Regions from separate parts of the Homo sapiens genome. Here region 2 is linked to region 1. Evidence: fine-mapped expression QTL. Tissue or cell type: whole blood. Region 1 holds a variant in brackets; the other region holds the start of a gene. All regions are shown on one strand. Distances are from middle to middle.

Region 1 (6,132 bases):
CTAGCTAATTTTTTACTAGAGATGAGGTCTCACTATGTGGCCCAGGCTGGTCTCGAACCCCTGGCTCAAGTGATCCTCTTGCCTCAGCCCCCCAGAGTGCTAGAATTACAGGCATGAGCCAGGATTACTTCCGCCCTTTAGAACTGTGAGAGAATAAATTTCTCTTGTTTGAAGTTACCAAATTTCTGGTTATTTGTTACAGCAGCCACAGGAAACCAATAATCCTGGTTACTTCCCAAGGCAAAGAAGAAGCTAAGCAATACACAAGTGCTTTGTAAACTAAACTGTTACACAAGTACAAGCTCTCTTTACTGGTCACTTTCCACAGGGATTTCTAATACCATGCACACAGCTGTTGTCATGGATCAGTCTTCATGGAAAAGACTTCAGGGGAGTTCCTGGGGCTTTCCTGTCTCATTGCACACACTTCTCCCCAATCCTTCTCTTTCCAAAAAGTTTAGTATTTCTTTCGGTAGTGGTGTGGATATTGCTAATTGTAGCAGCCCCCCAGAAAAAGAGTTAGAACTACCTTAGCCATGTCTCTTGAACCTAGGAAGCAATTACTCTTCTCTTTATCACAAGATCCTTCAGGATATAGAGCAGGCTTTCTCAACAGCAGCAAGACTGATGTTTGGGACTGGACAATTCTTTGCTATGGGGATGACTCTGCAGCATCCTTGTCCTCTACCCACTAGATGCCAGTAGTACCCTCCCCAGTCATGACAATCATGTATTTCTCAGAATAATGCCAAATGTTCTGAGGCAAACTGCTCTGCCCTCCCTCCCCACCAATCAGGTCAAGAAACCCTGATTTAGAGGATGACAGGACATGACTGGCCAAAGATCTATCTAGTGTGACTGTATTAGGGAAGCAGAAGCCTAGAAGAGCCAGAGTGACACCATTTTAAAATCAACTCCATCTTAAACTTCCCAGTCATGACCCATAGAACTAAGATGTTCACAGCTAAGAAAACAGCTTAAAGACACCTGTAAGAACAAACTCCTACAGCAGAAAGTCCAGAAGTCCCAATACTCATAACAATATATGCTTCCAAGAATTATAGTTATGCTTTGATGCACTTACACACTAAGAAGTCAAACACAGAGTTATTTATTTATTTATCTGAGATGGAGTTTGGCTCTGTCACCCAAGCTGGAGTGCAGTGGCATGATCTTGGTTCACTGCAACCTCCGCTTCCCGGGTTCAAATGATTCTCCTGCCTCAACCTCTTGAATAGCTGGGATTACAGGTGTGTGCCACCATGCCTGGCTAATTTTTGTATTTCGTAGTAGAGATGGGGTTTCGCCATGTTGGCCAGGCTGGTCTTGAACTCCTGGCCTCAAATGATCCGCCCATCTAGGCCTCCCAAAGTGCTGGGATTACAGGCGTGAGCCACCGCACCTGGCCAAGGATGGATTTCCTTAAATCAATAAAGTACTAAATTTTGTCATGCTATCTGTCTATCCACCTGTACGCACACCTTAGTCTTTACATAGAGAAGACCCCTATATAAGAAAAACTTAAAGACAGTGCATTCCTCTGCTTGTTTTCTGAGGATGCCTACTCTGGAATGGAGTAGCTTTCAATAAACTATCTCTTCTCACTGCACTTTGCAACTCATCTTGAATTCTTTCCTGTGCAAGATCCAAGCCTCTATTGGGGTCTGAATCAAGATCCCCTTTCTGGTAACAGCTCCATTCCTTGTAGATAACCCCAATCTCCATTCATACATTAAGATTTGTCCTAGATGTCAACAGAGGACGTATGTCCTAGTAGCTTGCTGATTCATCATGAAATTGGTCTTTTTGATAGTTTCATCAGTGTTTCTTAAATTACGATCAATATTCCATCTGTGGCAGGATCACTTGAGCCTCTTGTTGACCTGCTGAGAGATCCAGGAATTTCCATTTTACGTGTTTTACAGATGATTCTTAAAATTTCTTTGATAAACACTAGTTTGGATGAACTTCAGACTCCAGGTAGATGATGTTATTTATTCTACTCTCCTGGTTCTGGAAACTGATCCCAGTTCTCCCTGACAAAGTCCTCCTTCACACTTGCTGTCAGTTGAACATCTGATTCTGGAGACCCCAGCCTAACTTCTGCCTACACTGACATCTCAGGCTGTCTGTTGTCACTTACAGTACTGATGTCTCACCTTTCTGTCCCCAATAGCATTGATGTCCTTGGATACAAGCTCTGATTTCTTTGGATGCATTCAGAGCTCTTATGTTTGTCTCTATATAAATAAAGCCTTGGCTATGCCTAATGTAGTAACTCTATCAACCCTTCCAGCTTTAACATATTTTTGTATGCATGCCTGCATCCTAAATCCTAGCCTTGTTCTGCCTTTAGAGCCCTGGATACAATAACCTAGAGGGACCAGAAATCTATAGGTCTAGGTAGAGAAATGATCAAATTGAAGGAATTCAGCTCCTTCTTCAACATTCCCCATCTTGGCTGCCCAAAGAAACTTAAGCATAACCTTTTCTATCTTTCTCTACCTTATCTCTCACACTCCATCAATTATCAAGTCCTGTGGATTCAACTTCTCAAATATCTCTTGAATTAACCGAATTCTGTCCATCCTAACACGAGGCAATTGAACGTGCTGTTTCTCCTGCCTTTCCACAAATATAGAAGACTGTCAGCTGCACAGCAGCCACTCTCACTGGCAGGTTAGCCCACAATCATGCTCCAAAATTATGTAGAGAACAAATTTATAATCTGCCATAAGCAAGTTAATATGAAGATGCCACTGATGACACAGAATACTAGAAACTAATATACAAAAGCACCAACTTTAATTACAGATCCAATATATCCCTATCAAAACCCAGCTGGTTTCTTTACAGAAATTGACAAGCTGATCCTAAAATTCAGATGAATATGAAAGAGATCCAGAGTAGTTAAAACAATCTTCAAAAAAATCAAAGTTGGAGATCTCAGATTTCCTATTATAAAATTTATAACAAATTACAGTAGTCAAGACAATGTCATACTGGCATAAAGACGACATATAAATCAATGTAATAGAATTGAGACTTCAGATATAAACCCATAGATCTGTGGTCAATCGATTTTTCACCAGGGTGTCAAGACAATTCAACAGAGAAAAAATAATCTTTTCAACAAATGGTGCTAGGAAAACAGATATCCACAGGTGAAAGAATGAAGCTAGACACCTATCTCACATCATACACAAAAATTAACTCAAAATGGATAGACCTACATGCAAGAGCTAAAACTATAAAACAGAAGAAAATACTGGGGGTAAATCTTCATAATCTTCAATTTTGCAATGGTCTCTTGGATATGACACCAAAAGCACAAGCAACAAAATGAAATAGATAAACTGGACCCCATCAAAATTAAAATTATTGTGCTGCAACTGATACCATCAATAAAGTGAAAAAACAATTCCTGGAATGGGAGAAAATATTTGTAATTAATTTATTTTATAGTGGCTTTATGTCTATTATATATACAGAACTCCTGAAACTGTAATAAATGAGATAACCCATTTCAAAATGGGCAAAGAACTGGAATAGATAATTTTCCAAAGAAATACAAGTGGCCAAGAAGTACATAAAAAAATGCTCAACATCATTAGTCAGAATGTAAACACATCAAAATCACGAGATACTTCAAACCCACTAGGATGGCTATAAAAAAGACATACAATAACAAGTGTAAGATTGCCATATACATGATTCACTCATTATCAGCCACTACTGAACTGCCAGCTTAGGAAGTTAGGAAGCTCTGAGTTATAATACTACTCCCACCAATGATAGCTCCACATTATTAAATCTAAAGAACTTTTTTAAATGGCCAGTTCCACCCTCCAGATTCTGGCCCAGCTATCTGCATGCACTGACGGTTGATTCTACTCAGCCATAGTCAAGAATCACAGCACCCGGCTTGAAAAAAAAAACAAAAAACCTATTCTGCAGTAGCGTATCACTCTACTTTCCTCAGTTTTGAGTAAAATATTCACTGGGGAGAAAAAAGCAAACCTTA[C/T]GTCTACTGATACCTACCCCTCTCCTGCCCCATGCACCCTGTAATTTCTCTCCAACCACCTTAAGGGCCTTTTTTTTTTTTTTTTTTTTTTTAAAGATAGGGTCCTGCCATGTTGCCCAGGCTTGACTTGAACTCCTAGGTCAAGTGATCCTCCCATCTCAGCCTCCTGAGTAGCTGCGACTACAGGAACCAGCCACCACACACCCATGTCCACCCACCTTAGGGTTAATCTTTGTTACTAGCCCTCACTACTCAGAATTGGTGAGACCTCTCCATTTCTGCTTCACTCAGCTTACGTGGTTTGCTCACACTGACACCAACAAACACCTGTCAATCCCTATGTCCCTCCTGTCTTCCAAAAATACCTAGAAATTGCTGCTCTATTGACGGTAGTATTTCTTGTTTTCTAGTGTTGCTATTATTTGTCTATTGTACTTGGTTTTGCATTTTAGTCACCTGAATGATATCTGGAAGAAGGCGGTTTCACCATTTCAAATCTTTTTTTCACCATTTTATTGTCATTCAGGTTACTACAAATGGTAAGTAGAAGCTCTGCAAAAGTAAAAACTGAGTGGGAGGAAATCATTTTGGGAAAATATTCTGAACTATTTCAGTCCAATTAATATTTGATACTAAGCTTCTACAGCATCAGATGTTACTTATGTCAGCATAAGGAGAAAATTCCTATACTTTAAAAAAGTTTCCATTACCCCCATCTAAATATTGCCTGATAGTCACAGTATAAATTCAAGCTTGGAAAAACTACTGGCATCACTAAGTATCCCCTGACACCAAAGTTCCTGTTCATCTTAGTTACACAACTACTGATGACCTGTTCTGACTGGTGACTGAGAGGAAAAAATAAAGAAATGAGTAAGATGGTCGGTAATACTTCAACACTTCCCAGTGATTAATACATTTGGACCCGTCGTCTCATCACTTAATCCTACCCAACATTTAACGCATGAAATTTCCAGTAAAAAAAAAAACAGAACCTCATAGATGGGTCTAATCAAAACTGCCCTTTCTAAAAATATGAAGGCTAGCAGTTGGTAACCTATATAATAAAAGGTCACTGTGTCAAAACTATGTACTCCTTTCCCTCTTCCCCCATTGTATACCTGATTTGTGGGAAGGGGGAGACGAAATGGGATAAATTTTAAATTAATACAGGCAAAAAAGAATAAAGTCAGAGATTTTCTTAGACATCACATATGTAAATCAGAAACCAATATATAAATGATGCTTGGTGATGAAAAAATGTTTAGTTTATTTAAAATTCCTGTTTAGAGTCAACTTTATTTACTGGCTCCTGTAACCAGTGAAACATTCTGAAATGTATTAGATAATGGTTGTATGTTTTATATATTTCATATCGAATATAGTAAGTGATTTAATCAATTAACAAAAGTCCTTTATTTGTGAACAATGAGAGAGACTGACACTAGCTTTGTATGGTTTTACTTTGGAAAATTTTACAAATTTAAAGTAATAAATGTATTCATTTTCTTACTCTGCAGAAGTTCAATTTTAAAAAGAACATTACTGTTCTAAAATTTCAAAACATACAACATAGTCTGTGCTTGTAACATTTTCAGATTTGTCTGTGACAGCTTGATGTTATGAAGAGAAGGAGGGAGAATGGCTGTGAGTGGAGAAAAGAGCGAGAGAATATTCTTATAGTAAATGTTAGTAAAATTAAGAGAAATAATGGGTACTGTCACTCACAATATAAAAACTTCCTGCTGTTTTAGCACAACCTGGTGGTGATAAATTTTAGATACAGAAAACATCAGAAAAATCAATAAAGTGTTCTAATTACTTTAAATCTACTTATTGTACGCTATTTTTTTTCAATTCAGAAATCTAAATATACACATTCAGAGCAATTAGTAAAAACTAACACATGCCTTGTACAAAAAAAAAGACATTTCCAAAAAGGAGTTAGCCAAACGCAATAGCGTAATTACAGAATTACAGCAAGCTGAATACGTACACAGTATTATTTAAGCAAACATCAGAAAGTAAAATAAATACACAACCCTCCTTCCCCTCATCAAATTACTTTTGTAAAACCTAACATTGGTACTCCAAAGAACAAAAGTATA
Region 2 (5,566 bases), 130 kb after region 1:
AGAGAATATAGTTTTTTAAAAAACAAAAACAAAAATCACACCCTATTTTAAATGCACCAAGCTGCCTCTATTAAAAAAAGTCTCAAGATGAGTATCCTTTAATATAATTTTTGCAAATAATAATCTCTATATCATTAGTAACTTCGAAATGTCATGGAATATCACCCTTAGCCAGGTAAATTTTGTCAACAGAAGTGGAACTCTCCAATTTTTGGAAACTACCTATTAAAAAATTAGGGCTCAAGTTAGTAGGGACTTTTTATTACCTGGCACTACAGATGTTCAATATTTACTGAACGTATTTTTAATTAACCTCTAGACAGTCTCTTTGCCTTTACTCAAAACCTTGCGAAGTGGCGTTTTATAGAGGGGCAAAGATCACATATATTGTGTGTCTGGTACACAGTATTATATTAACAATTATAACATCACCAAGAATGGTTATAAAGTGAAACTCCACATTAAATGACTGCTTATAAAGTCTCTTAATTTTATTATAACGGGACTTTCTGCGAAATACTGTTTCCAAACGCTAGGTACTAGCACAGGGGAAAGAAGACTCAGAAAGCTGAAGGTTCAACGAACGCAGTTTTCAATCCTTTATCCTGGACTACTGCCACCGAGTGTCAGATGCCAGAGGAATAATAAAAAACCGGGAAAACTGAAAACCTCGGATTGCGTTTCATCCCTTAAAAAAAAATCTGCAAAACTAAGATGTGATTAGTCACGCAATGCTTCAGGATTGCAGGAAATCGACGTTGTGGCCCGACGCTGACTGAAACATGAGAAGGGCAAACAGGTTTGCTGTTGTTTTCTCCCACCTTTCCTTCTTTTCCAGGCTATGTGACTTAAGGACATGAAAGCGTCTTAGGGGTGAACAAGAAAAGCTAGCGGCGCGGTCATTAGGTGTTAGGGTTTGGCTAGCTGGGGTAAACGTGGACTCTGGTCCGGCATGGCCCCAAACCATCAATCCATCCCTGACCTCGCCCCCTTTCGCTGTCCGGCCCGGAGCCCGCAGCCGGGCCGAGCGCTTGCCCTTCTGCATCTCAAGGTTATAGGACCGGCGGGCGCGTAGGGCAGTGGTAAAACAACCCAGTCGAACTGCGGGCGCGGCAACCGCTGAGCCTCACCAGCCTCACCCGCTCCCAGGCCCCACTTCACCTCGTACGCTGGAACTGGAAGTCAGACTCATGGCGCCGTCGCTTGCAAGGCGTGTGCACTAGGATACCGAGCTCAAACGGGTTCGCGCGGCCGGCGAGAGTAAAGGTGCCAGCGGCGTACTAAAGCACCGACTCCGCGATGCTACCGCGCAGGCGCCGCGGCGGGTCGTAGGCACGTGTGTGAGCTCGACCCTGGTAGGTGCTGAGCATGCGTGGAGCTGTCCTGGCCATAAGGAAGTCTGGACTCCGGATTTTGACAGCTACGGGAGGTGGGAGGAGGAAAAGACTTAGGTAGCAACAGAGTTTGCGCAACGCCGAGGGGCGGGGCCCTGAAGCCGAGGGGCGGGGCCCTGAAGCCGAGGGGCAGGGCCCTGGGATTAGGGAATCCAGGCCAGATTTTACGTCTCTTCCAGGTGTGTGGGCTTCTGGGGGCAGAAACAGGTGTTAATAGGACACTTACTTTAATCAGATACCTAAGATTTGACCCCAGTTTTTCTTGCTCGGGGCTTGTGACGATTTACCTTCAAGGCCAGGTCCAGCTTTTATATAACATGCCAGCGGCGGACATACAGGAATCAATGACTGAGTCCCATTCCAGAACCTCGCGTAGCTACCGGTGTCCATCCCTTTCTGCTTTTGATATAATTATCTACTCAGGACCTTGGAACCTGCACTATCTTAAAGGTCGAGTGGGAGAGAAAAAACTTGCTCCTTTCTTTAAAAAACATGTTCACTTAAAAAAATTAGAAGTTTTCTCTGTCTTCTACAGTCTGAAATTCGTGTCGGTTCCAATTTTATTTTATTTTTATGTGTTTTACTTTTTGGTAAGAGCGGTTTAGAGACAGCAATCCGGGGAGGGGGGCTGAGATTAACTCGAAGGGTATTTTGAAGGCGCATCTCTAATAAGCTGCCTGCTTTTACTTCTGTTGTTTTCGTGCGGGGTGGGAGTTGGAGGGAGTTGAGTGCAGTTAGGGGTGGCCTTTAGAGCCACCCTTGGCAATGCTAGTGCCTTCCAATTCTTGCCGGACTGCTCCGCACACTTAGAAGTCCCTGGCTTCTCTGAGCTGACGCGCTGAGAAGCGTGTTGAATGAATGAGGCCACAGCAGCACGCGTGACTTCGAAATGCCCGCGGGGTGGGGGTGAGAAGAAACAGGGGTGCGCTCGCCCTATCCCTGTCGCCGTCGCCAGGTCCTGGCAGCACGGCGCGCCCGCCCCGCTGACTTGGGGGGCCGGAATCCCGTTGGACGGCCTCTGGGCATGCTCAGTAGCGGCGGCAGCGGCGGTGCGGGCGGCGGTGACGCGCGCGCGGCAGCTGAGGGGACTGGAGGACGGCGGGAGGGGGCGGGGGCGCAGGAGGTGGGNCCGCCGTCGCCGTCAGGGCCCCAGGGAGCGCGGGGCGCCGCTGCTGCTGTTCTTCGGCTCGGTTCTGTCTACCGGGCAGCGCCGGGGCCGGCGGCTGCGGCGGCAGAGGAACAGGAGCCGGGAGCCGCGTTCCGCCGAGAGTTGGGCAGAGGAGCGCCCGCGCCCCGGCGGCGTCATGGGCCCCCTCCCCGCGCTTCAGAGGGCACCAGCCGCGGGAACCCCCGGGCCTCCTCGCGCCCGAGCCTGAGCGACCCTCGGGTTCTCCGGCGCCCCCTCCCTCGCCCTATTTTTTTTCCTACTCTCGCTGCCGTTACCGCTTCTGCTCTCCGTTATGGCAACAGAGCCACCATCCCCCCTCCGGGTCGAGGCGCCGGGCCCCCCAGAAATGCGGACCTCACCGGCGATCGAGTCCACCCCTGAGGGCACCCCGCAGCCGGCGGGCGGCAGACTCCGCTTCCTCAACGGCTGCGTGCCCCTCTCGCATCAGGTGGCCGGGCACATGTACGGGAAGGACAAAGTGGGTAAGTGGGGGTGGCATAGGTCTCGCCGCTCCCCTTCCGCCTGTGCGAGCCCCCTGTCAGCGGAGGCAGCCTAGCGCTCTCGGGCCTGCCTGGACGCCCCCCTGGTGTGCACGCCAAATCCCTGGCCTCTTCCGCTGTCCCCCGAAGCCTCGCCACTCGAGCAGAAGGGGCTCGGAAAGTGGGACAATTCCTAGGGTGTGGGTCGTCAGGCTTGCAGCACGGGTGGCAGGGAGAGGCGTGTCTGGTCTCACCCACCCCCCAGGGAGGTTGGGTGTTGATTGGAGACGGCGTTGTTAGTGAAAATAAGGAACTTCATTTTTACTGGACGGGGAAGTAAATTCTCCCTTGAGCACAAGGTCTGTTTATTATAGGCGAGTAGCTATTGCAAAAGAAAAGGAATGAAATGCAGATGATGCTAATCTAGTACTTCTCTGCTGGGTGCAGCTGCATAGCTGGAGGGGAAGAAAAACACTGGGCTTTTTTAGGGGGAGGTGAGAAGGGAAGAAAGCTTGTCCGTGATTTTTCCCTGTCCCTTGAGGAGGTTTTTCTGGTGTCTCCTTGATTTCTCTGGGAGGCGTGGTTCCAGTAGTGCAGAAACTCGGATTCCTGGTGGGAAATTCACACGCATATTGTACCAGAATGATACACAAAATGTTCAGCTATTCTTGTTCATTTTATAAGGCTGTATCATGGCCACTGTAATACATTTTCTGAGTTCACAAGTTTAAAGCCTATCTCAGTTTAGGAACTCTAATTCATCTAGTTTACCCGTAGTGGTTCCCTGGGCCATGATTACTGGGGTAATCTGATGGATGAGTATGTGAGTATTGTGGATCTTTGACCCGGAAGAGCCACTAGAGACAATTTAGTTTATGCCGGTAAAACGATTCGGGTTTAGGTTGCTAATACTGACATTTTTAGACGAGGTGACTAAGGCCAACCCTGGTTAAGAATGACGTGCCTGAAGTCACGTTACAATATGTTAAGAATTGTGAAACCAAGAGTTCTTCCTTTGAGTACTGTATTTTTTCACCATGTATTGTGTTTGCTGAAACAACTCAAGGCTTTTAGAAAATGGATAAGTATTAATTTGAGTATATGCTATTTCTCAAAGCGACATTTTCCACTACTTTTATTTTTACCTACTTTGTTTGTGTGCCTTTCTCCCCACTGAATTGTGAATTCCTAGATGTTAGAGAGAGAATCTGTATTCTCTCATAGCCTTGTGCACGGACTGGGAATCAGTAACACTCAGGAAATATTGAATAGTGAAAATTGACAGTTGTTTTAGTATACCGAGGTAAAGAAACAACGTCCTCAAGTTGCTCAGCATAGACATTTCCTCCTGTGTGCCAGTGTCTTGTAATGAGAATTTGAGAGTACTCATGGGGTTTCTGTTAATAGAGGAATGCCTATTGATTTATATTAATACATTGTGATTTTACTATTCCTAATAATATTCTAGATGCCTGAAAAAGTAAATGTTTCCCTAAAGGTCCCTAGAGATTGACTTATATGCAAAGGAGAATAGATTTTAAAAATCTCAACATAAAAACAATCTAAATAATTGTCACTTAAGAGTGTAACCACTGCTTATTACAGTATGTAATAGTGATCCCATTCAGAGTGATTGCAAATAGTGGCTGAAAAGTTAATTTGTCACCCAAATTGCCTAATTAATGGAAAAGTTTAGATTCTAGAGGTAGTAGTCCTTAATTTTATTATGGCATTCAGTGTAAAATAAACTTTTTTTGCAATTTCATAAGGGTCTTTTGAGTAGGGACAGTGTTTGTGTCACCATAGTAGAATGGCTTAAACATACTGTGCTAGCAACCTAATATTTGTTGAATTTAATTCTCAGATAGTTATACAATCCTGACTGTATTGTTAAGTAAAAGGATACTTGACTGATGATATATTCCCTATTTGTAAAATGGATAAGATGGTCACTAATTCAAAGTTCAACAGTTTTATTATGTTTCTCCACTGTCATAAGTCATGTACAGTTTACATCATTTAGATCATGCTTTGGTCTGTCAATTGAAATAATTCTCAGGATAAGCTTTGTTAAGGACGTTATGTTGGTATTTGTTTTGTTTTTAAATTTGTGTTACTATCAGTAAGTAACCAGAAATGTTCCATTTAGAATTATTTTACCTATTTCCAAAAAGGAGTTGTTGGCTTTGTTAGTTTAAAAATTAAACTCATGGAACTTGATAGAACAAAGGTGCTTGAACAGAAAAATAGATCTTGTTATATATGCTAAGTAACAAGCATATATTAGTAGTTCAGACATCCGTTATATTTTGTGTTCTTCACTGAAACCATATTTCATCAAAATACATTTAAATCTTAGTTCTAAGAATACAAAGTATTTTGTTTTTTAAACTGTAAAAATTGTATAGTACACGGATCTTTTAGGAAAAAAATTCAGTTTAAGTAGTGCCCTTCCCCCTACTCATTCTCCCAGGGGCAATCACTGGTAACTACTTCCTGTCTATCCTTTCAGGCCTTTGTTTCTG

What was found. PIP is the estimated chance that this variant, and not a neighbour inherited with it, causes the effect.
Region 2: IPMK starts here. The variant in region 1 is fine-mapped to the expression of IPMK in whole blood (INTERVAL, PIP 0.91).

The regions. Positions count from the first base shown.
Region 1 is chr10:58,398,359-58,404,490 of GRCh38, reverse strand. It overlaps TFAM (transcription factor A, mitochondrial), which reads right to left. Exons shown (of 7, transcript NM_003201.3): 7 at 5,271-6,132. Among named protein-coding and RNA genes, the nearest start is that of TFAM, 16 kb to the right of the region's middle. The variant C/T (reference allele first, on the strand shown) is at 4,025.
Region 2 is chr10:58,264,900-58,270,465 of GRCh38, reverse strand. IPMK (inositol polyphosphate multikinase) reads left to right here and starts at 2,572. Exons shown (of 6, transcript NM_152230.5): 1 at 2,572-3,044. The coding sequence starts at 2,855. CISD1 (CDGSH iron sulfur domain 1) reads right to left here and starts at 1,304. Exons shown (of 3, transcript NM_018464.5): 1 at 1,162-1,304. The coding sequence starts at 1,192. RefSeq lists silencers at 877-926, 1,517-1,576, 2,282-2,791 and enhancers at 1,147-1,196, 1,042-1,598, 3,043-3,337, 3,292-3,401.